Regions from separate parts of the Homo sapiens genome. Here region 2 is linked to region 1. Evidence: fine-mapped expression QTL. Tissue or cell type: whole blood. Region 1 holds a variant in brackets; the other region holds the start of a gene. All regions are shown on one strand. Distances are from middle to middle.

Region 1 (11,148 bases):
GACAAAAATTTTTTATTCCTAAAAATGCTTTTTGCTTTAATGTTTTTCCCCCAATATTAATGTAGCTATCTATTTTCTTTTCTTAGTTTTATTTTTAATTGACAAATAATAATTAAAATGCATTTATGGTTAAAATGTGATGTTTTGATTTATGTTTATAATGTGGAATGATTAAATCAGGTTAATAATTAAGAAATCACCACCTCACATAATTATCATTTTTGTGTGTGAAGAAAACATTTAAAATCTACACTTTCAGGCACGGAAAGACAAATTCTCCATGATTTCACTTCTATGTGAAATTTTAAAATGTTGGACTTACGGAAGTAACGAGTAAAATGATGGTTATCAGCCTTCCTTTCATTTGTGTTCATTTTGTTTTTGAAAGATTCTCCCCAACGCCCGAAAGCTTGAAGGAATGAGTAACTCCTCTCTTCTCAGGCCCAGTCCCAAGGCACAAGGCCACTTGTACCAGCAGCGTGAGTCAGCAAGATAGCAGAAGCAGGAAGAGAGCCGGCCAGAAGACACCTACCCTGGCCGGAAGACACGTACCCCTGAAGATCGAGAAACAGGCCATCTGGGTACCACATAGCAGTTACATCAGACTGGGACAATTCCTGTTTACGGAAGACTATAAAACCCTGCCCCCTACTCATTTGGTGCTGACGCCATTTTAGGCCTTAGCCTGCCTGCACCCAGGCGCTCATTAAAACAGCAGGTTGCTCCACACTGCCTCGTGTTGTCTGTTGGCACACTCTCAAGAGTTTGAACGGATACAAGAATCTTTCATCTGGTGCCGAAACCCGGGAGGGGCTCCGGTCTTCGTCCCCCGTGGACCTACCCCTCCGCCCCAGAAAGCAGGCCACAGCAGCCGGACAAAGGAAGCTCCTCAGCCTCCAGTTGCTTCTCTGTGCATGCACATCAGTCACTGATCTCACCTACTGGTAAGTTTCCCGGGAGCCCGGTTAACAAGGAAAAATCCATACAGCCTCTCTTGGTTTCTCCAGTCTGAAAATCCAACATTGGTCCAAGAAGGCTCCGACGTGTGCCAGGTACTTGCTGATCATCTGGTCTTAGGGGGACGCCTCTAAGCCATTTGATCCCGTTCCGGGAACGAAAAAGGCAGCGGTGACGATCGCTCCTTTCATCGTCTCCCTCCACCATCCAGGATGGTCTCCTTTTTCCCTGTTTTCCCGAGCCTACCCTCAGTTATGGGAAACTCCCCATCCTCAATTCCAAAAAACAGCCCTCTAGGCTGCCTCATAAAAAACCTGTAAACCTGGCCAGGTGCGGTGGCTCATGCCTGTAATCCTAGCACTTTGCGAGGGTGAGGTGGGCGGATCACCAGGTCAGGAGGTCAAGACTATCCTGGCTAACACGGTGAAACCCTGGCTCTACTAAAAATACAAAAAATTAGCCGGGCATGGTGGCAGGCACCTGTAGTCCCAGCTACTCAGGAGGCTGAAGCAGGAGAATGGTGTGAACCCGGGAGGCAGAGCTTGCAGTGAGCCAAGATCACACCACTGCACTCCAGCCTGGGCGACAGAGTGAGAGTCCGTAAAACAAACAAACAAACAAAAACCTGCAAACCTTAGGCCTCAGGCAAGATATCCATCCTCCTTGTCTTTTTTTGCAATTCAGACTGGCCACAATACGAATTGAATAATGGGTCCTAATGGCCCGCAAATAGAACATTCGACTTTACAATTTTAACTGATTTAAGCAATTATTGCTGACGACTGGAGAAATGGGGAAAAACTCCTTATGTCCAGCCCTGTTTGCACTCAGATCACAACCCGACCTCTGTAATTCTTGCTCACCTGTTCAAATCCTCCTCTATTCTCGCCACCCAGATCACCTTTCTCCTCCCAACTCGACATATTTTCCTCGTTAGATCCAGCAGACTGCTGTCCATTCCTCTCAGCCCCTGCCTCTCCCTCTCAGCCGTCTTCTTTAACCCCCTAAGCCTCCTCTTTATCTTCTCAGCTGCGATCTTCTCAGCCTTCATCTTCCCAGTCGCCATCTTCCCAGCCCCCATCTTCCCAAGCAGCAGTATCCACTTCTTTTCCTACACTGTCCTCTCCTCAGGACAATTCTAGCATTGTCTGTACTCATTACTCATTCTCCTTCCTCACTGCCCTCTCCTGAAGCCTGTAAACCCATCCCACCACCTTACGCCCCTATCTATCCTCCACTGCCTATCAACTTAACCCTCCTTCCCCCTTCAAACCCTCAGCAGGAACCACTTTCAGGTTCTTCCTTCTCTCCCACCCATACTCGCTCAGGCACCATCTTTGGCCCATGCCCCACCCTTAGTTCAGCCCCTGTGCTAGAGAGCCCCCTTCAGAAAGTAGCAGGAACTGGAGGCATTGTTAAAGTTTATGTTCCCCTCTCCCTCAGTGATCTCTCTCAAATTAACAAAAGACTCAGTTCATTTCCAGAAGACCCTACCTCTTACATTAGAGAGTTTCAGTACCTCACCCAGTCTTATGAACTAACTTGGCATGACCTCTACATTATCCTCTCTTCCACCCTCACCCCAGAAGACTGGGGCTGTATCTGGACCCTAACTCAGGTACATGCTGATACAATTCATCACCAAGCTCCTGCTCAGCCTACTGGTGCAAAGGCAGTCCCCAACCAGGACCCCCACTGGGATTATCAAGATGGGGCCTCTGGACGCTGCTGTCGAGACCACATGATTGTGTGCCTCCTTGCAGGACTCAAAAAGGCTGCCCATAAAGTGGTAAACTATGAAAAACTTTCAGAAATCACCCAAGGTCCTAACGAAAACCCAGCCCTTTTTATCTCTCGTTTAACTGAAGCCATGAGAAAATATACCAACCTAGACCTAGCCAGTCCAGAAGGAACCGATATTTTAAACCTTCAGTTCATCTCCCAATCCACCCCCAATATTCAGCGCCAGCTTCAAAAACTTGACAACAGCCCTCAAACCCCACAACGAGACTTTCTTAATTTAGCCTTCAAAGTCTTTAACAATCGTGATGAGGAAAGTAAAAGGCAAAAACAGGCAGGGTTTCAAATGCTTGCCTCCTCCATCAGGGGCCCTGCAGGCCATGGGGCCACAGCTCCACACAGAAGCCTCCTAGCAATCCACCTCCACCTGGTGCCTGCTTCAAGTGCGGCAATGAAGGCCACTGGCCCACACAATGCCCAAACCCAGGTAAACCCACGAGGCCATGCCCCCTCTGCGGAGGACCCCACTGGAAGTTGGACTGTGAGCGGCCCCTGCAAGGACCACCCCCATCCCTTCCTGAGCCAATCAAACCCTCCTACTCGGATCTCGTCAGCCTTGCCGCTGAAGACTGATAGTGCCTTGGAACAGACACCCCAGCAACTACCATCGCTTCATCTGAGCCAAGGGTAACCCTGATGGTGGCAGGTAGGCCAGTATGTTTTTAAAATTAATACCAGGGCAACCTATTCTGCTTTCCCTAATTTTTCAGGACCCACCCAGTCCTCCCAAGTCTCTATTGTGGAAATTGATGAACAAGCCTCCAAACCCTGAGCCCCCCGCTCCACTTTTCTGCTCCCTGCACACCTTTTCCTTCACTCACTCTTTCTTAGTCCTGCCCTCATGCCCAACTCCGCTCCAAGGCATCCTTTCAAAACTCCACACTGCTCTCCACTTCCACGTTCCCCATAATACCCAACGCATCAACCCAAACCCCTCTGGGGCTTCTTTCTTCTATTCCAACCTCCCACCTTAAAACATGCAACCTTTCCTTATCCCCCATCTGTAGTTAGCCCCCCTGTTTGGGGTAATTCCACACCCTCAGTCGCAAAACACCACACTCCCGTCCGTCCACATTACCCTTAAAGAGCCCACCCAGTTCCTATCACAGAAGCAGTATCCCATCCCCCAAGCAGCTCTCACAGGCCTAACGCCTATCATTTCTCACCTCCTCGCCAGTCACCTACTCCGCCCAACATACTCCCCTTTTAACACACCAATTCTACCTGTTAAAAAACCAGATGGAACTTATCGCTTAGTCCAGGACCTCAGGCTTATTAACCAAGCTGTACTCCCAGTATGTCCAGTAGCTCCTAACCCATATACTTTACTTTCTGCAGTTCCCTCCAATACCACCCATTTTTCTGTTCTAGACCTAAAGGATGCTTTTTTCACAATTCCATTACACCCTGATTCCCAAAACCTCTTTGCCTTTACATGGGAAAACCCCAACACCCATGGAGTCCCTGTGTATGATCACTTAAACAGAGAAAAACGATCCTTAAAGGTAGGAGGAAGCCAAAGACGGCAAGAGGACGAGTGGCCCCTGCAATGGATCATCGAATATTATGGTCCTGCCACTTGGGCGGAGGATGGTTCATGGGGTTATCGCACTCCCATATATATGCTAAATAGAATAATTAAGGCTACAGGCTGTTCTAGAGATAATCACTAACCAAACCGCCTCCGTCCTGGAAATGCTCGCACAACGACAAAAACAAATGTGCGTGGCAATTTATCAAAACAGGCTAGCACTAGACTACTTATTAGCAGAAGAGGGTGGAGTCTGTGGTAACTTTAATGTCTCCAATTGTTGTCTTAACATAGACAATAATGGAAAAGCAGTTCTAGAAATCGCTTCAAACATCAGAAAAGTAGCCCATGTACCAGTCCAAACCTGGAAAGGATGGGACCTGGCAAACCTTCTAGGAGGATGTTTCTCTAATTTAGAAGGATTTAAAATGCTGATAAGGACAGTAATCTTCATCATTGGGCTCCTCCTTTTTCTCCCGTGTTATCCCACTGATAATAAAAGCCATTAAAACTCTTGTTGAAGCTACAGTTAACTATGTTTATTGTGGCACTATTCACAATAGCAAAGACTTGGAACCAACCCAAATGTCCAACAATGATAGACTGGATTAAGAAAATGTGGCACATATGCACCATGGAATACTATGCAGCCATAAAAAATGATGAGTTCATGTCCTTTGTAGGGACATGGATGAAGCTGGAAACCATCATTCTCAGCAAACTATCGCAAGGACAAAAACCAAACACTGCATATTCTCACTCATAGGTGGGAATTGAACAATGAGAACACATGGACACAGGAAGGGGAACATCACACACCGGGGCCTGTTGTGGGGTGGGGGGAGAGGGGACGGATAGCATTAGGAGATATACCTAATGTTAAATGACGAATTAATGGGTGCGGCACACCAACATGGCACATGTGGCACATGTATACATATGTAACTAACCTGCACGTTGTGCACATGTACCCTAAAACTTAAAGTATAATAATAAAAGAAAAAGAAACTACAATTAACTGCCAGACAATCCAGACAATGCTCCTGCTACAATGACAAGATGGATACTAACCTGTCTCTCAAGAATACCAAAAAAATTAAGGTTTTCTTTTTCCAAGGTGCCCACGCCACCCCCTATGTCATGCCTAAAGTAGTTATTGAGAAAGTCACCCTTTTTCCCTTTTTTCTATAACCAAATAGAAAGGAATGAAGGATTCTCCCCAGGGCCTGAAAGCTTGAAGGAATGAATAACTCCTCCCTTCTCAGGCCCAGTCCCAAGGCGCAAGGCCACTTGTGCCAGCAGTGTGAGTCAGCAAGATAGCAGAAGCAGGAAGAGAGCCGGCCAGAAGACACCTACTCTGACTGGGAGACACGTACCCCTGAAGATTGAGAAAGAGGCCATCCAG[G/A]TACCACATAGCAGTTACATCAGACTGGGACATTTCCTGTTTACAGGAGACTATAAAACCCCTGCCCCCTACTCATTTGGTGCTGACGCCATTTTAGGCCTCAGCCTGCCTGCACCCAGGTACTCATTAAAACAGCGTGTTGCTCCACACTGCCTCGTGTTGTCTGTTGGCACACTCTCGGGGTTTGAACTGATACAAGAATCCTTCAGTTTTGTATTGTATTTTAGTTGGATTTTTAAAGTTTATCTCACAAAGAGGGTGACTACATAATAATTAAAGGTAGCAATTCACTAGAGATTATAGCAATCCTAACTATGCAAGCATCTAATAACAAAGCCACAAAGTGACAAGGAGAATCTGACAAATCCACAATCATAATGAAAGATAATATCAAAACGATCTCAATACTTGATAGATCAATGCAAGGAAATAAGTCTTCGATTTCTCAGTGCTCCTGTAAAAAGCACTAGCCTCCAGAGGCATGGAAATCTACATGATATAAAGATAGGTAATTTTACCCTTCACTTACTTTACAAACATTTTACTTTCCACCTACTATTGAAATTAGATCTGTAGTTATTCGTAGACAAATAGTTATTTGTCTGACAAACAGTTAATTGCTCTGATCCAAAAGAATAATAAAACTTCTCTTACCTCCCCAAGAAAGTCAAATGGTCACAGCCTGGATTAGTCAAGATTCCAAGGTGTCAGGAAGATCCCTAATTTACATTTCAAGAAGAAATGGGTCCCAGGACCTTGGAGACATGTCTAGGTCATAAAAGCTGGAGATGCTAGGGCTTACCTGGCCCTTGGAGAGATGCATTCTAAGAAGTCTTGCCTCTCTCTTTTACTTATAAATACCTTTGTGATTTTATTAGATCCACCCAGATAATCCAGGATAATCTCCCCATTTCAAAATTCTTGATTTAATCAAATCTGAGAAGACTCTTTTGTCACGTAAGGTAACATACTCACAGGTTCTGAGGACTGGGATATGGACATCTTTGTAGGGGGTGGGGTAATGTTCTACCTACCATACTATATGAGGGAATAATAAACACTAAATTTAAGACAGCAAATACCTCTGAGGGAGAAAAGAGAATGCAGTCATGGAGGCTTTAATTGTATGTTATGTTTTATTTCTTAAACTGGGTGGTGAGTGTACAGTTGCTCATTAAATTTCTTTGCATGCCTGAAATATTTTATTGAATAATCTCACTTTTTAATAAAAATACTTAGGAATAAATTTAACTAATTTAACTAAAAAGGTGAAAGACTAGCATACTGAAAATTACAAAACATTGCTGTAAAAAAATGTAAAAAGGCCTAAACAAATGGAAAGACATCCCATGTTCATGGATTGGAAGACATAACAATGATAACAGAAATTGAATCAGAATTTAAAATCTGCCTCTGAATAAACACCAAACAAACATGGGCCAAGAGTTTTATAAGACCATTCTATCAAATATCCAAAGAACAGACCCTACAAACAATAAAAATACTAAGATGTCAATACTATCTAAAGTGATCTATAGATTCAATGTAATCCCTATAAAAATTTCAAAGGCTTTTTTTGCAAAAATGAAAAATCTGACCCTCAAATTTGCAGTAAGTGCAAGGAGTCACAAGTAGCCAAAACAATTTTGAAAAAGAACAAAGTTGGAGGACTCACATTTCCTGATTTGAAAACTTACTACAAAGATATAGTAATCAAAATATCAAGGTACAGGATAGACATATAGACCAATGGAATAGAGCTGAGAGACCAGAAATAAATCCATACATCATGGCCAAGTGATTTTCAACAAGTGTGGCAAAACATTCAATGGGGGGAAAAAAGTCTTTTAAATAAATGGGACTGGGACAACTGGGTATCCAAATGTAAAAGAATGAGTTTGGACCCTCTACCTTACACCATATAGCAAAATGAAGTCAAAATGAGATAAATGACCTAAATATAAGAGCTAAAACCAGCCGGGTGCGGTGGCTTACGCCTGTAATCCCAGCACTTTGCGAGGCTGAGGCAGGCGAATCACGAGGTCAGGAGATTGAGACCATCTTGGCTAACATGGTGAAACCCCAGGTCTACTAAAAATACAAAGAATTAGCCGGGTGTGGTGGTGGGCACCTGCAGTCCCAGCTACTCAGGAGGCTGAGTCAGGAGAATGGTGTGAACCTGGGAGCCAGAGCTTGCAGTGAGCTGAGATCGTGCCACTGCACTCCAGCCTGGGCGACAGAGCGAGACTCCATCTCAAAAAAAAAAAGAGCTAAAACCATAAACTCTTATCAAAAAAATAGGGATAAATAAATCTTCATGACCCTGCGTTTAACAAAGAATATGACACCAAAAGCATGAGAAACAAAGGAAAAAATAAATAAGAGTTCATCAAAATGAAAACCTTGTGTGTCAAAGAACATGATAAAGAAAGTAAAGACTTCACTTTTTGCCTGTATGTACTGGGAGGGCAAGAAAAATGCCAGCAATTAAATGAGTTGTTGAAATGGCCAACAAGCCTTGGAAAGGTATTATGTTGGATCAGGTGGCCTGAAAGCTGTACTTGTAGTTTTGTACCTACTGTACTTGTAGGATATTTTTGAAGACAGAGGAACTATTGTAATTAGTCCTATGTTCAGAGAGGTAAAAGCAACTAGAAAAGAAAAGTGGCAGCACAGAAAAGTAGTAGAAATATAGAATCAATTTTCTGAGCATACAGAGAAAGAACAAATGACTTGTTTAAAAGGGTCCATTTTAATGTTCTTCCTTTTTATACTGGTAAATACTTTCTAGTCCAAGAAATCTGGCTCCGAATTTCCTAAAATTTTTACTTATTTGATCTATTCCCCTGTATGTACCCATCTCCCATTGCCTGCACACCTTTCCCCCCCTTACCCACCTCTTTTTCTGACATTGCACACAGGCCAGTCTCTCATCCCACAGACTTGTTCTCAAAGAAGACATACTTTCTCTAGAAGATAGTATCCTAAAGAGCATTCTCCTATTGTCTTAGTCCATTTGAGCTGCTAAAACTGAGTACTATAGACTGAGTAACTTATAAACAAGAGGATTTTATTTCTCACAGTGCTAGTGGCTGGAGGCCTAAGATAAAGTCTCCAGCAGATTCAGTGTCTGGTGAGAGCCCACTTCCTGGTTTATACACAGTCATTTCACTGTGTCCACACATGGCAGTAGGACCAAGGAGAATCTGGGATCCCTTTTATAAGGGCACTAATCCCATTCATGAGGGCTTTGCCCTCATGGCTTAATCATTTCCAAAGACGTCACCTGCAAATACCATCATATTGGGGATTAGGTTCAACGTCTGAGTTTTGCGGGACATAAACATTCAGTCTATAGCAACTATGTTTCCCAAATTCCATTAAAAGCCAAAATATTATTTTGACTATACAGGTCCAAATGGGTCTGTAATCCCAGCACTCTGTGAGGCTGAGGGGGGCAGATCACGAGGTCAATGCTGGGTTACAGCCCAGCATTCAAACACTGGATCCCGGGCACATATAGATACACTCTTCTTTTTCCTCCACTGTGGAGTAGCAGTCCCACTTCTCCTTGATAGTTAGGGTCAATTACTCCACCCAACACAGTAATTCCCTTCTTCGCTTGTTGATTCAGGGGCATGAGGAGTTCATAGTGGTTGGGTGGCAGTCTTAACTTTTAGTTCGATAGAACTATCATTGTGCGTCCTGGTGTAAACATTCCTCCTTTTTGAACCAAAACCTCTAGGTTAGCAGCATAAGCTTATGGAAACAGAAAGCAAAATTTTTGCTAGTAGGTTACTAGGGGTAATAGTGAGTGTGCCACTCCCATTTCCAACCCTTGATTCCTGGACCCAAGAATCTTGACTATGGAAGGAAGAGTATCATATATTGGACTGTGATTCAGAGTATATACAGATTCCTAGAGAACTTTGCCCCAGCCTTGCAAGGTACTCTCCCATCGTTGGCACTGGAATTGAGTCTTCCAAAGGCCACTTCACCATTCTGTCAAACCAGCTACTTCAGAGTAGTGGTAAAAACTACAGTGTAACTGTGTTCACTGTAAAAACCAGTGAATTCCAGGAGCATGGACCCATTGAGGCATTTCTTTTGCTGTGAAGTTTTATAAATGGAAGTTCCTCTGCACAAGCTCTCTTGCCTGCCACCATGTAAGATGTCCCTTTGCTATTCTTTCATTTGCAACCATGATTGTGAGGCCTCCCCAGCCATGTGTAACTGTGAGTCCATTAAACTTCTTTCCTTTATAAATTACCCACCCAGTCTTGGGTATGTCTTTATTAGCAGCATGAGAACAGACTAATACAAGCTTTAGAGCCCTTTCTAACTCCTTGTGCCAAAATATAAATGCAGAATCTCTATTTAGAGAACTCATGTGAATAAACTCAGCGTCTTCCAACTTTATCTTCTTTCTACCATTATCCCATACCCTCATTATCCATTTCCACATATTTTTCAGATTTCAGTCTGTATAAGTTAGAAAACTCAAGTAGTTTTTTTTGGAGTGTAGTGCACTTTCTCATGGGTCACATTTTGTCCCACACCTTCAAAGGCCTGCTGGGACTTGAGTCTAATTATGAGACTAGAAGCAAAGAGGGGTGGTAGGGGTGAGTTCTAAGAAAAATCAATATTGTCTTGCTTGGCAACTGCCTCAGTGGAGGCCATTACAATTTCCTCATGCAGTGTAGCATTAACCACCTTCTGAGGTGGAGAAGCCACTAGCACTGGGAGTGCGGAGGCCACTTCCACTAGCAGTAGGATTGCCTCTTCCACTAGCAAAGAAGACTCACCAGAAGTTAGAGGCTCAATGTCCTCAGTTTCATCAAGGTCTTCCCACAAGTCCCCATTCCAACTTATAGAAACCCATTCTGGTTTTCTTTTTTCCCCTTTTTTTTTTTTTTTTGAGTGGGGTCTCGTTCTGTCACCCAGGCTGGAGTGCAGTGGTGTGATATCAGCTCACAGAAAACCCCACTTCCCAGGTTCAAGCAATTCTCTTGCCTCAGCCTCTGGAGTAGCTGGTTTTATAAGTGCCTACCACAATGCCCAGTTAATTTTTGTATTTTTAGTAGAGACGGGGTTTCACCATGTCGGCCGGGGCTGGTCTTAAACTCCTGACCTCAAGTGATCTGCCTGCTTTGGCCTCCCAAAGTGCTAGGATTACAGGCATGAGCCACCGCACCCAGCAAGAAACCCATTCTTTCCCAGTCAACGCCTTCACTTTAACAGAGTATAAAAGTGGGTCACCGGATGAGATAAGATAACTGTAAAACTGGGTCACAGGATGAGATTCTGCATTTGATTTTCAGGAATCTCAGCCCTGTGGCTAAAGGAGATAAGACTCTCCCTCAGGGCACATGTGGAAGCTTTCAGTCATTTATGCAGTACTTGAGCTGGAAATTTGAATTCCTGAGCTCCTTCTTTTCTTTCAATACTTTGTTCG
Region 2 (10,594 bases), 97 kb after region 1:
CATAAGCAACAAACAATAATTTTAAAATAACAACCATCAACATGTGTGTTGATCCATTTTGCACGGCTATAAAGAAATACCTGAGGCCAGGTAATTTATAAAGAAAAGAGTTGTATGCGGCTCAGGGTTCTGCAGGGTGTACAAGAAGCATGGTGCCAGCATCTGCTCGGCTTCTGGCGAAGGCCTCAGGAAGCTTTTACTCACTGCAGAAGGCAAAGGGAGCCAGCATGTAACATGGGAAGAGAAGGAGTAAGAGAAACAGCTAGAGGGAGGCTCTTCTAAACAACCAGCTCTTGGGTGAACTAATAGAGGGAGAACTCACTAATTATCACAGGGGAGGGCACAAAGCCATTCTTGAGGGATCTGCCCACATGACTCAAATACCTCCCACTGGGCCCCACCTCCAACACTGGGGATCAAATTTTAACAGATTTGGAGAGAACAAATAAAGAAAACAGAAAAAGGCAAACTGAATGAAAAGATGCATAATTCTAATAATCAGAATTTATTTAAACATCAAATTGTCATTCTAGAACTGAAAAACATGTCTAAAATTAAGATTTCATTTGATGTATTTAAGAGTAGACTGGACACAGCATAAAACAAAATTAGTAAACTTGAAAACCATCAATGAAAAAGATCCAAACTTGAGCTCAAAAAGAAGAAAATGGGGAAAAAGCAGAAGAGATCAAAAGAGGCATGTAGAACAAGGTAAAGAAAAAGAAAAAAAAAGCTAACATATGTACGATTGGAGTTCCAAAAGGAAAAGAGAGAACTGAATAGAAGTACTATTTGAAAAGAACCAAGAATTTTCTAAAACGGATGAAAAATATCTATCAACAGATTCAGTAAGCCCAGGGGACCAAGCAGGATTGTTTAAAATGTTTTTTAATTTTTTATTTTTTTAGAGATAGGGTCTTGCTCCATCACCCAGGCTGGAGTTCAGTGGTGCAATCATAGTTCACTGCAGCCTCAAATTCCTGGGCTCAAGTGATCCTCTCCTCTCAGCCTCATGAGTAGCAGGGACTACAGGTGTGAGCCACTAAGACAAGTTAGCTTTTTTTTTTTTTTTTTTTTAATTTTTGTACACACAGGGTCTCACTATGTTACCGAGGCTGGTCTTGAACTCCTGGCAAGCAATCCACCTGCCTTGGGCTCTCACAGTGCTGGGATTACAGGCATGAACCACCAAGCCAGGCCTGATTTTTAAAAAAATCAGTCTCTATTCAAGAGATTTGCAGGAAAATGATATTGTAGGTAGAAAATCAGGTTTTATTTAGGACAGGTAGATGAAATTCAGAAGAGGTTAAATATACAGGGAAAACTTTAATGAAAGGTTATTTATGTATTCCAAGGCTTGCAGAAGATGGGTTTTAGAAAAGTATAAAACCTGCCAGACATGGTGGGTCATGCTGTGGTGGGTCATGCCTGTAATCTCAGCACTTTGGGAGGCTGAGGCGGGTGGATCACCTGAGGTTAGGAGTTCGAGACCGGCCTGACCAACATGGTGAAACCCTGTCTCGACTAAAAATACAAAAATTAGCTGAGCATGGTGGCAGGTGCCTGTAGTCCCAGCTATTTGGGAGGCTGAGGCAGGAGAATCGCTTGAACCCAGGAGGCGGATGTTGCAGTGAGCTGAGATGGCACCACTGCACTCTAGACTGGGCGACAGAGCTAGACTCTGTCTCAAAAAAAAAAAAAGTATAAAACCCATCTGGGAAATTGAGTCAGATAAATAAATGTACAGACAGGATATGAGGCAGAATGGAATTCATCTTGATATTCTCTTAGAAGAAATGGGTAATGAGTTTAAGGTGGGTGTGTGGGGCCCAGAGGATTGCTCCTTTGCACTTCCTGCTAGTGTGCTAGCAGAGGTGAGTGAAGGACTCCTCAGGAGAACATGATCTTAGACAATGGAGAATGCATATAAGGGCCTCCTCTATGGGTGCAGAACAATGCAGTAAGCTGGTAAGGAAGGAATGCTTTCACCCAGAGGGGGAACTGGGGACTGCCTCATTGCAGCTTTGTGATGTTATAGTAACTGGCGGCCTAGATGAGAAGAGGCCATCCCTTCCTTGATGTACCCTGACTCTCAACTCAAGTCCATTTCTGCCACCTGCTCCACCGCCATATCACAGACTGAGCCATCACTCAGAATGGCTGCACCCTGAATTGTAAATATAAACGTTCCACTTTCTGACCCCCACCTCCTGTGTTTCCAGCTCCCTCACTTAATTACTCCCTCTACTTCTCTTCACTCACCTCTTAGAGGAGTCTTCACTTTCTGTCCATGTATCAGTATGATATCCTTTTCTCATTTCCCACTGAGTCCTTAGAGTCCTTGGCCCATCACTTCAGATACTCAGGAGCTTAGCTCCCTAACCTACTGCCTTTCCATTCTATTAATATATGCCTGGCAAATTCCTATCCCAGACGAAGTCAACTTGGTTATCTCTGTACCTACATCTGATTTACTGACTGCTACTTGAGAAAATCACACAACCGGGAAGATGGGTACCATTCTCCCTACATATTTTCAAGCACAATTGTATAGAGGTACAACACAAAACTCACTGTAATAAATTAAAACAATACAGCTATGGACAGAGTAAAAAGTTAGAATTCTCCATCTTTTCCCCCAAAACCATTCCACAAGACATCTGTTATTAACAGTTTGGCATAGGTTCTATGCATGCACTATTGTCTTAAAGCTAGATATATACACATATATGTACATAAACACATATACAACATATATGAAATCAAATGGACAGCTAGAGCAGAATGGACAGTTGCTAAGCAACTTGCACTTTTTCTTTTTTACTTAATAATATGTGTTGGGAGCCAGCCATGTGGTGTATGCCTGTAGTCCTAGCTACTTGGGAGGATGAGGTGGGAGGATCAATTGAGCCCAGGAGTTTGAGGCTGCAGTGAGCTAGGATGGAGCCACTACACCCTAGCCTGGGTGGCAGACCAACACCCCGTGTCTCAATAATAATGATGATAATAATAATATGTCTTGGAGGACATTTCTTCTTAGTAGGTACAGATATACTTTATTCTACATAATGCCTCATTCGCTTAGTCACTCTAGGTCATTTACTATTTTTACTATGAAACAAAGTTATAATGAATATCCTTGTACATCCTCCTGAACACATGTGCAAGTATTTCTCTAAAGTAGATCCCTAGAAGTAGAAATGCTTGGTTAAAGGGTACATGTATTTAACATCTTAATAAATATTTCTCAATTACCATCCAAAAAAGAGACGGGTGGGGGGTCTCTACCAAATTGCCCTCCCAACCGCCTAGGAGCGTTACTACCCTCAGGTAGGACCTCCTCTTTCTTTCCCTAGACATCTCTCTCCCTCATTCTCCACATAACGTATCTTTGCTCGAACCTCCTACTGCACCAACATCCCCATCCCCACTCAAACACGCACATTCTTGGTAAATATCTCACCAACTATTTGTAGAGAAAAAAAGAGGTCAACAAAGGCAAATGTTCTCAGCTTCCTACCCCCAAACCTACAAAACCTAATGTCTATCCCCTTCCTGTCTTCCTTCCCTACTCTTATAACGGCAGTAGGAGGGCAGTCCTTCCTGTTGTCTAAAGGCAATCCTGGTTGAGAGGGTCCTTACCTTCACAAAGGGCTGACTACACTGACCAAAGGTCTCAGCTTCCACTCTTCCCTCCGCTAACCTCCATCTATTTTCTGCCCTCACGGCTCCATGGAAACCTCAGGCTCACCTTGGGCAGAATCCAGCTCCTTATCTTAGGTGACTAGTGCCTACTCCCTACTTCTGACAACATTCTTCATAATGCCAGTCTGCTGATTTTCCTCCTCAGGCTCTCTGGCACTTCTTTCTCACTCCTCCACTCCTCAGGTACTTCTTGTCCAAACCTTAAAATCTGAGTTTGGGGTTTCCGATCTGGGCCTTGTGCTCATTCCCCCTGGGAGATGTCACCCATTCCCCACGTGCAGCCACCATCACCCTCTGTTTTCTCTCTAATCAGCGTCTTCAGCCCTGATCGCCTACAAGTCCGAATTTGACTTCACTTTCTCGCATTCTGCCCCGCCTTCCCTCCACTCCTCCCCAATCCCGAAACCTAGTCCCTCCTCCGGGAAGTCTTTCCTGACTCCTCCCCCTTCTAACTCCCCACCGACGGTCTGTGTCCGCTGCCACGCGTGTCCAGTACCTCGCAGACCTGAGGAATGTAGTTCTCCTTGAAGTAGTTCTTCAGCCTCGGGTTGGCATTGCGTAGCGAGGCCATGGCCCAAGGCCTGACGGAGAAGCTGCGATAGTACCCTCCCCGCGCTGGGACTAGGGGCCGGGCGCGTGCGGGCGTTGTCCCGGCAACCAGGGGGCGGGGCTGGGCGTGGCACCGCCCCGCGCTCCGCTGCCAGGGGCGGGAGGGAGGAATGGTTGCTTCACGCCCCGGGGGAAGAGACGGGAAGCTCGGCTCTGGGTTGCGGGCCCCGGCGTCTCCGCGTGGGGCGCACCGTCCGACCCCCCCCTCCCGGTGTGCAGCGCCCCGCACCGCCCCGCCTCGCCTGGGAGAAGCCGCCGGGACGCGCCGGGCTGGAGTGGGCGGTTATAGGCTTTGAGCTAGGCCGTTTCCGGGAGGCGGAGCTCAGACCCCATTTCCTTTCTCCACATCCAGGTCAGGTGGCGTTTGCTGTGGCGGCTAGGCCCGCGTGCGCTGGAGACCTCCGCGCTGGCCCCCGCGAGCCTCCTGCCCTGGCCCGGCGCTGCGGCTCTGCCGCGGCGGCAGCATGGGTGGCCCCCGGGGCGCGGGCTGGGTGGCGGCGGGCCTGCTGCTCGGCGCGGGCGCCTGCTACTGCATTTACAGGCTGACCCGGGGTCGGCGGCGGGGCGACCGCGAGCTCGGGATACGCTCTTCGAAGTCCGCAGGTGGGACCCCGGGGTTTCCGGCAGGTGGGCGGGGACTGGGCAGGGGGGCTCCCCAGGCCGGGGTGGTGGCTTGCGTGTGCTCGGGGTAAAATGAGGAGCCGAGCTAGAGGGAGAGGCAGTACTTGTGTGAGTGCAGGGTGCTGCGCCGCCCCCGCCGCCCCTTTGCTGACTATACTGGTATGAAAACTTGCCCTGGCTTTCCTGCCTGAGCTCCGCGTCACAGCGGAGGATTAGATTTCTTAAAAACCTGTTGATGGCCTCTCATTTTAAAGCTTGCTCCGGGCCTTTGTGTAACTAAAGGGATTCTCCCGATTGTGGAAGGGCTGTTGAGGGGCCCAGAGCCATAGGTCAATCTCTGCTTGCAGGTGCCCTGGAAGAAGGGACGTCAGAGGGTCAGTTGTGCGGGCGCTCGGCCCGGCCTCAGACGGGAGGTACCTGGGAGTCACAGTGGTCCAAGACCTCGCAGCCTGGTGTGTGTTTTGGAAATGGGAACAGTTGTCTGCGCGAGACACACCCTCCCAGCGGACAAATGCATGATTCGGTTTCTGTCCAAAAGTTGATCGGTACATTAAAACCCTCCAAAGGCATGTTTCACATCATGGAAGCTGTTAGGGAAATAATTTAAAATATCATATCTGCCATCCAAGAAACTCCTGTCCACAATTGTAGAAGAGAGCTAAACAGCTTCATTGTTGAATAAGCACAAACTAAATTGCCTCACACATCACGGGCAATTTGCTAATGGGATAGCAGGAAGAATTCTAATTCCTTTAAATGTAGCTGGACAGATAGAACCGATTTCATATTACATACGTGTTCTCAAGATAAAAAATAATTTGTCCTTAGGTAAGAGGACTTGACAGTACCATTTGCTACATGTAGTTTATCCTGAATTTACTGGTAATTGGGGTGGTTGTTATCTAATTGCCTTTATCCAGAGGAAAAATAAAAATATCTTTATGATGTGGAACCAGGTGCCCAGGCTAAAAACTCACAGAGTTGGGGAGATTGGGGATCTATCTTCCTGGAAGAGTAGGTTTCAAAGAGTACGCTTTCGAACAGTAGGCTCCAAAGCTTTTAAGAAAGTCTTTCTTGGGCTGTAAAACTGGCCAAATGCTTATTTCACTTTTAAAAAGATTTACAGGCTGGGTGTGGTGGCTCACACCTGTAATCCCAGCACTCTGGGAGGCCAAGGCAGGCGGATCATGTGGTCAGGAGTTCAAGACCAGCTTGACCAACATGGGGAAGCCCCATCTCTACTAAAAATACAAAAATTAGCCGGGCTTGGCGGTGGGTGCCTGTAATCCCAGCTACTCAGGAGGCTGAGGCAGGAGAATCACTTGAACCCAGGAGGCAGAGGTTGCAGTGTGCCAAGATTGCACCATTGCACTCCAGCTTGTGCGACAGAGCAAGATTCTGTCTCAAAAAACAAAAAACAAACAAAAAGATTTACATTTGTATCAAAGAAGCAGAAAAAGGAGTTTTGTTTTGTTTTCAGACAGGGACTCCCTCTGTCACCCAGGCTCGGTGCAGTGGCGCAATCACAGCTGCAGCGGCGCAATCACAGCTGCAGCCTCCACTTCCCTGGGCTCCTCCCACCTCACCCCACTAAGTAACTAGGACTACAGGTGCACACCGACACCTGGCTAATTTTTCCAATTTTTTAGGAGATGAGTTTTCACCATGTTGCCCAGGCTGATTTGAACTTGGCTTAAGCAGTGCTCCTGCCTCAGCATCCCGAAGTGCTGGAATTACAGGATTGAGCCTCCTCACCTGGCCAATAAAGGATTTTTAATTACAAGTTTGCACGAGGGAATGCTTTAAGAAAAAGGGAGTGGAAGGGGAAGGTCTCTCTCACTTTTGCCACTAGGTATAATTCAGCTTTTTTTTTTTAAAGATTTGTATGTACCCTTACTGTATTAGTCCATTTTCTGTTGCTTATAATAGAATATCTGAAACTGGGTAATTTATTAGGAAAGAAATTTATTTCTTAGAGTTATGGAAGCTGAGAAGTCCAAGATTGAGGGGCCGTAGCTGGTAAGGGCTTTCTTGTTGTGGCATAGGGCATCCCAAGGCCAGAGGGGCAAGTGTGTTAACATGCTGACTCAGGTCTCTTGTTCTTATAAAGCCACCAGTCCTGCTCATTAATCCATGAATGGATTAATTCATTCATGAGGACAGACCCCTCATGATCCAGTCACCTCTTAAAGGCCTTACCTCTCAATACTGCCACATTGGGAATTAAGTTTCGACATGAGTTTCGCAGGAGACATTCAAATCATAGCATTTACAAAGCCTAATTTGTTGTCTTTGCCCATGTCAGAGATATTTTTGTATAAGTACATTGGGAAGGTGTCCTGGACTCAGATATCTTCTCAGTTATACTGACTCAATCTGATGAATGTGGACAGTCTTTTAAACTTAACAGTTCCCATAATCATCATTATCTTAGGTAAGGCAGCTTAAAAAATAATTTGCTCACAGTCCCTTCTTCCTGAAGCTACTCCTTTATCATTGAAGAAGACTTGAGAAATGCTCATTTCATCATCAATATGGTTTGGCTTTGTGTCCCCACCCAAATCTCATCTTTTTCTTTTTTTTTGAGACGGAGTCGCACTCTGTCTCCCAGGCTGGAGTGCAGTGGCATGATCTCAGCTCACTGCAACCGCCACCTCATGGGTTCAAGCGATTCTCTTGCCTCGGCCTCCGGAGTAGCTGAGATGACAGGTACACACCATGTGCCTGGCGAATTTTTTTTGTATTTTTAGTAGAGACAGGGTTTCACCATGTTGGCCAGGTGATGTGCCTGCCTTAGCCTCCCAAAGTGCTGGAATTACAGGCATCAGCCACTGTGCCCGGCCCAAATGTTATCTTGAATTGTAATCCCATAATCCCTACATCGTGGGAGGGACCCGGTGGAAGGTAATTGAATCACGGGGGCAGTTCCCCTCCCCTCCATGCTCTTCTCGTGATAGTTCTCAGGAGATCTGATGGTTTTATTAGGGGCTTCCCCCTTTGCTCTGCACTCCTTCTCTTTCCTGCTGCCTATGAAGAAGGAAGTGTTTGCTTCCCCTTCCACCATGATTGTAAGTTTCCTGAGGCCTCCCCAGCCATGTGGAACTGTGAATCAATTAAACCTCTTTCCTTTATAAATTACCCAGTCTCGGGCAGTTCTTCATAGCAGCATGAGAATGGACTAATAAAGTCATCATCACGCTTAGATTTCAGAAGATGATCTTTTGTTTTTTGTTTGTTTTGTTTTTGTTTTTTTTTGAGACGGAGTCTTGCTCTGTTGCCCAGGCTGGAGTGCAGTGGCGATCTTTTCTTTGTTTTAAACTCACACCTCTAATCCCTTTGGGAGGCTGAGGTGGAAGAATCGCTTGAGCCCAGAGTTCAAAACCAGGCTGGGCAACATAGTGAAACCCCATCTCTACAAAAAATAGAAAAATTAGCCAGGCATGGTAGTGTGCACTTGTAGTCCCAGCTACTCAGGAGGCTGTTTTGGGAGAAACCCTTGAGCCCAGGAGGTCAAGGCTGCAGTAAGCTGTGATTGTGCCGCTGCTCTCCAGCCTGGACAAAAGAGCAAGACTCTGTCTTAAAAAATAAAAAATAAAATAATTTTTGTACTAACGTGGTTTGAGAGCATTGAAAAAGACGGAAACAGTCCCAATTCATCCAACAATCTAACGTCATAACCTGACAAGGATGGTAAGAAAAACTATAAATCTGTCTCAACTATGAATAAAGATATAAAAATCTTAAAATATTAGCAAGTCAAATCTATCAGGGGATTAAAGTAATAATATACCAAGGCCAAATGGACATGGAAGGAGGAGTCATACTAGAAAAAGGAAAAGCCACATGATGACCTCATAATAAAAAGGCATTAAAATATTTCTTTCCATAGCTGAAGCTCGGGGAAAAAAAAAGAAAAAAAATTTTATCATTTCTGATAAAAACTTGCAGCAAGTAAGGAATAAATAGAAGGAAATGTTCTTAAGTTGATCAAGTACATCCATCAAAACCCAAAAGCAAATATCGTATTTAATAGACACACTAGTTAGTAGCATCCTTATCAAACTCAAGAACAAGAGAAGGGTGTCTGCTATCACAGCTACTATTCAACGTTCTTCTGGAGTCATAGCTTGATAAGAAAACAACATGCATAAATATTGGAGGCAGAATTATAATCGTAGGTGGCATAATGATTTACTTGGAAAAATCCAAGAGAATTAACTAACTACTAGAAGCAATGAGTTTAATAAAATATCTTGAGTACAAGTAAATATACCCAAATCAATAACTTCTTGTATACATGCAGTAACAATTCAAAATTTTAATTGAAAATATTTTATTTGACAGAATGAGACCCTGTTTCAAAAAATATATATCATTCATGATAGCTATAAAAACTTTAAAAATTAGGAATTCACTTTAAAAACTAGGAGTTCCTGTAGTGAGAAGATAATTTTACTGAAGGGCCTAAGACTACATAAACAGGCATATTGTGTTCCCAGTTGGAAAGATTCTGAACCATGACAGTTATCTTGAAATTTGTCTTGCTACGTTATAATGTGGTAGTCACTTTTCATTCCCTTTGAGAATTCTAATTTCTCCTTGATTTACTGGAGGAGACCACAAACCACCGAGCCTAAGATTCTTTCACAGTCTTGTTGGCACAGAGCTAGATGGAAAGTAGAACACATGTTTGACTCCTCACCTGTGTAATAGCAGTCCAAAAACTCACCAGTGGAAGAGCTGAGTATTTGATGATCGCCCTCCTGTAAAATTTTTAGAGTTTTAAGTTTTACATTTCTTTACTAAAAAGTTATACATGGTTTTTGTTTTGTTTTGTTGTTTTGAGATGGAGTGTTGCTCTGTCGCCCAGGCTGGAGTGCTGTGGTGCGATCTCAGCTCACTGCAACCTCTGCCTCCCAGGTTCAAGTGATGCTTCTACCTCGGCCACCCGAGTAGCTGGGACTACAGGCATGTGCCACCACTGCTGGCTAATTTTTGTACTTTTAGTAGAGACGGGGTTTCACCATCTTGGCCAGGCTGGTCTCGAACTCCTGACCTCAGCTTATCTGCCTGCCTTGGCCTCCCAAAGTGGTGGGATTACAGGTGTGAGCCACCGTGCTGGGCCGATAAATGGTTTTTATTAGAAATTCAAAGAGAATATATAGAATTAAAGTATAGGCTCATTATTTTATTTTTTATTTATTCATTTATTTTTTGAGATGGAGTCTTGCTCTGTTGCCCAGGCTGGAGTGCAGTGGTGGGATCTCGGCTCACTGCAACCTCTGCCGCCCAGGTTCAAGCAATTCTTCTACCTCAGCCTCCGGAGTAGCTGAGATTACAGGCATGTGCCACCATGCCTGGCTAATTTTTGTATTTTTAGTAGAGACAGGGTTTCAGCATCTTGGCCAAGCTGGTCTTGCACTCCTAACCTCGTGATCCGCCCATCTCAGCCTCCCAGAGTGCTGGGATTACAGGTGTGAGCCACCGCATTCAGCTAGGCTCATTATATTAATATACTAGGAGGAATAATGGTTGAGAGGAAAGAGTAATGTAGGAGTAAAAAGATCTGGATTCTAAAGCCACTTTTGCTATTATTAATCAGCTATGTGTCCCATTAATGAAAATAATATACTAGTCACTTTAAATATTCTAGGTACAA

Evidence for each region. PIP is the estimated chance that this variant, and not a neighbour inherited with it, causes the effect.
Region 2: it holds the start of FBXL13, and the variant in region 1 is fine-mapped to the expression of FBXL13 in whole blood (TOPMed, PIP above 0.99).

The regions. Positions count from the first base shown.
Region 1 is chr7:102,972,828-102,983,975 of GRCh38, forward strand. The region is part of intron 7 of FBXL13 (F-box and leucine rich repeat protein 13); the gene reads right to left. NFE4 (nuclear factor, erythroid 4) reads left to right here and starts at 603. Exons shown (of 3, transcript NR_166512.1): 1 at 603-944. RefSeq lists enhancers at 124-1,323, 781-1,294 and silencers at 974-1,144, 3,715-3,876. The variant G/A (reference allele first, on the strand shown) is at 5,694.
Region 2 is chr7:103,070,495-103,081,088 of GRCh38, forward strand. It overlaps FBXL13 (F-box and leucine rich repeat protein 13), which reads right to left and starts at 4,302. Exons shown (of 21, transcript NM_001394494.2): 1 at 4,202-4,302. The coding sequence starts at 4,276. ARMC10 (armadillo repeat containing 10) reads left to right here and starts at 4,646. Exons shown (of 7, transcript NM_031905.5): 1 at 4,646-4,917; 2 at 5,283-5,387. The coding sequence starts at 4,779. RefSeq lists a silencer at 4,233-5,072 and an enhancer at 5,343-5,392.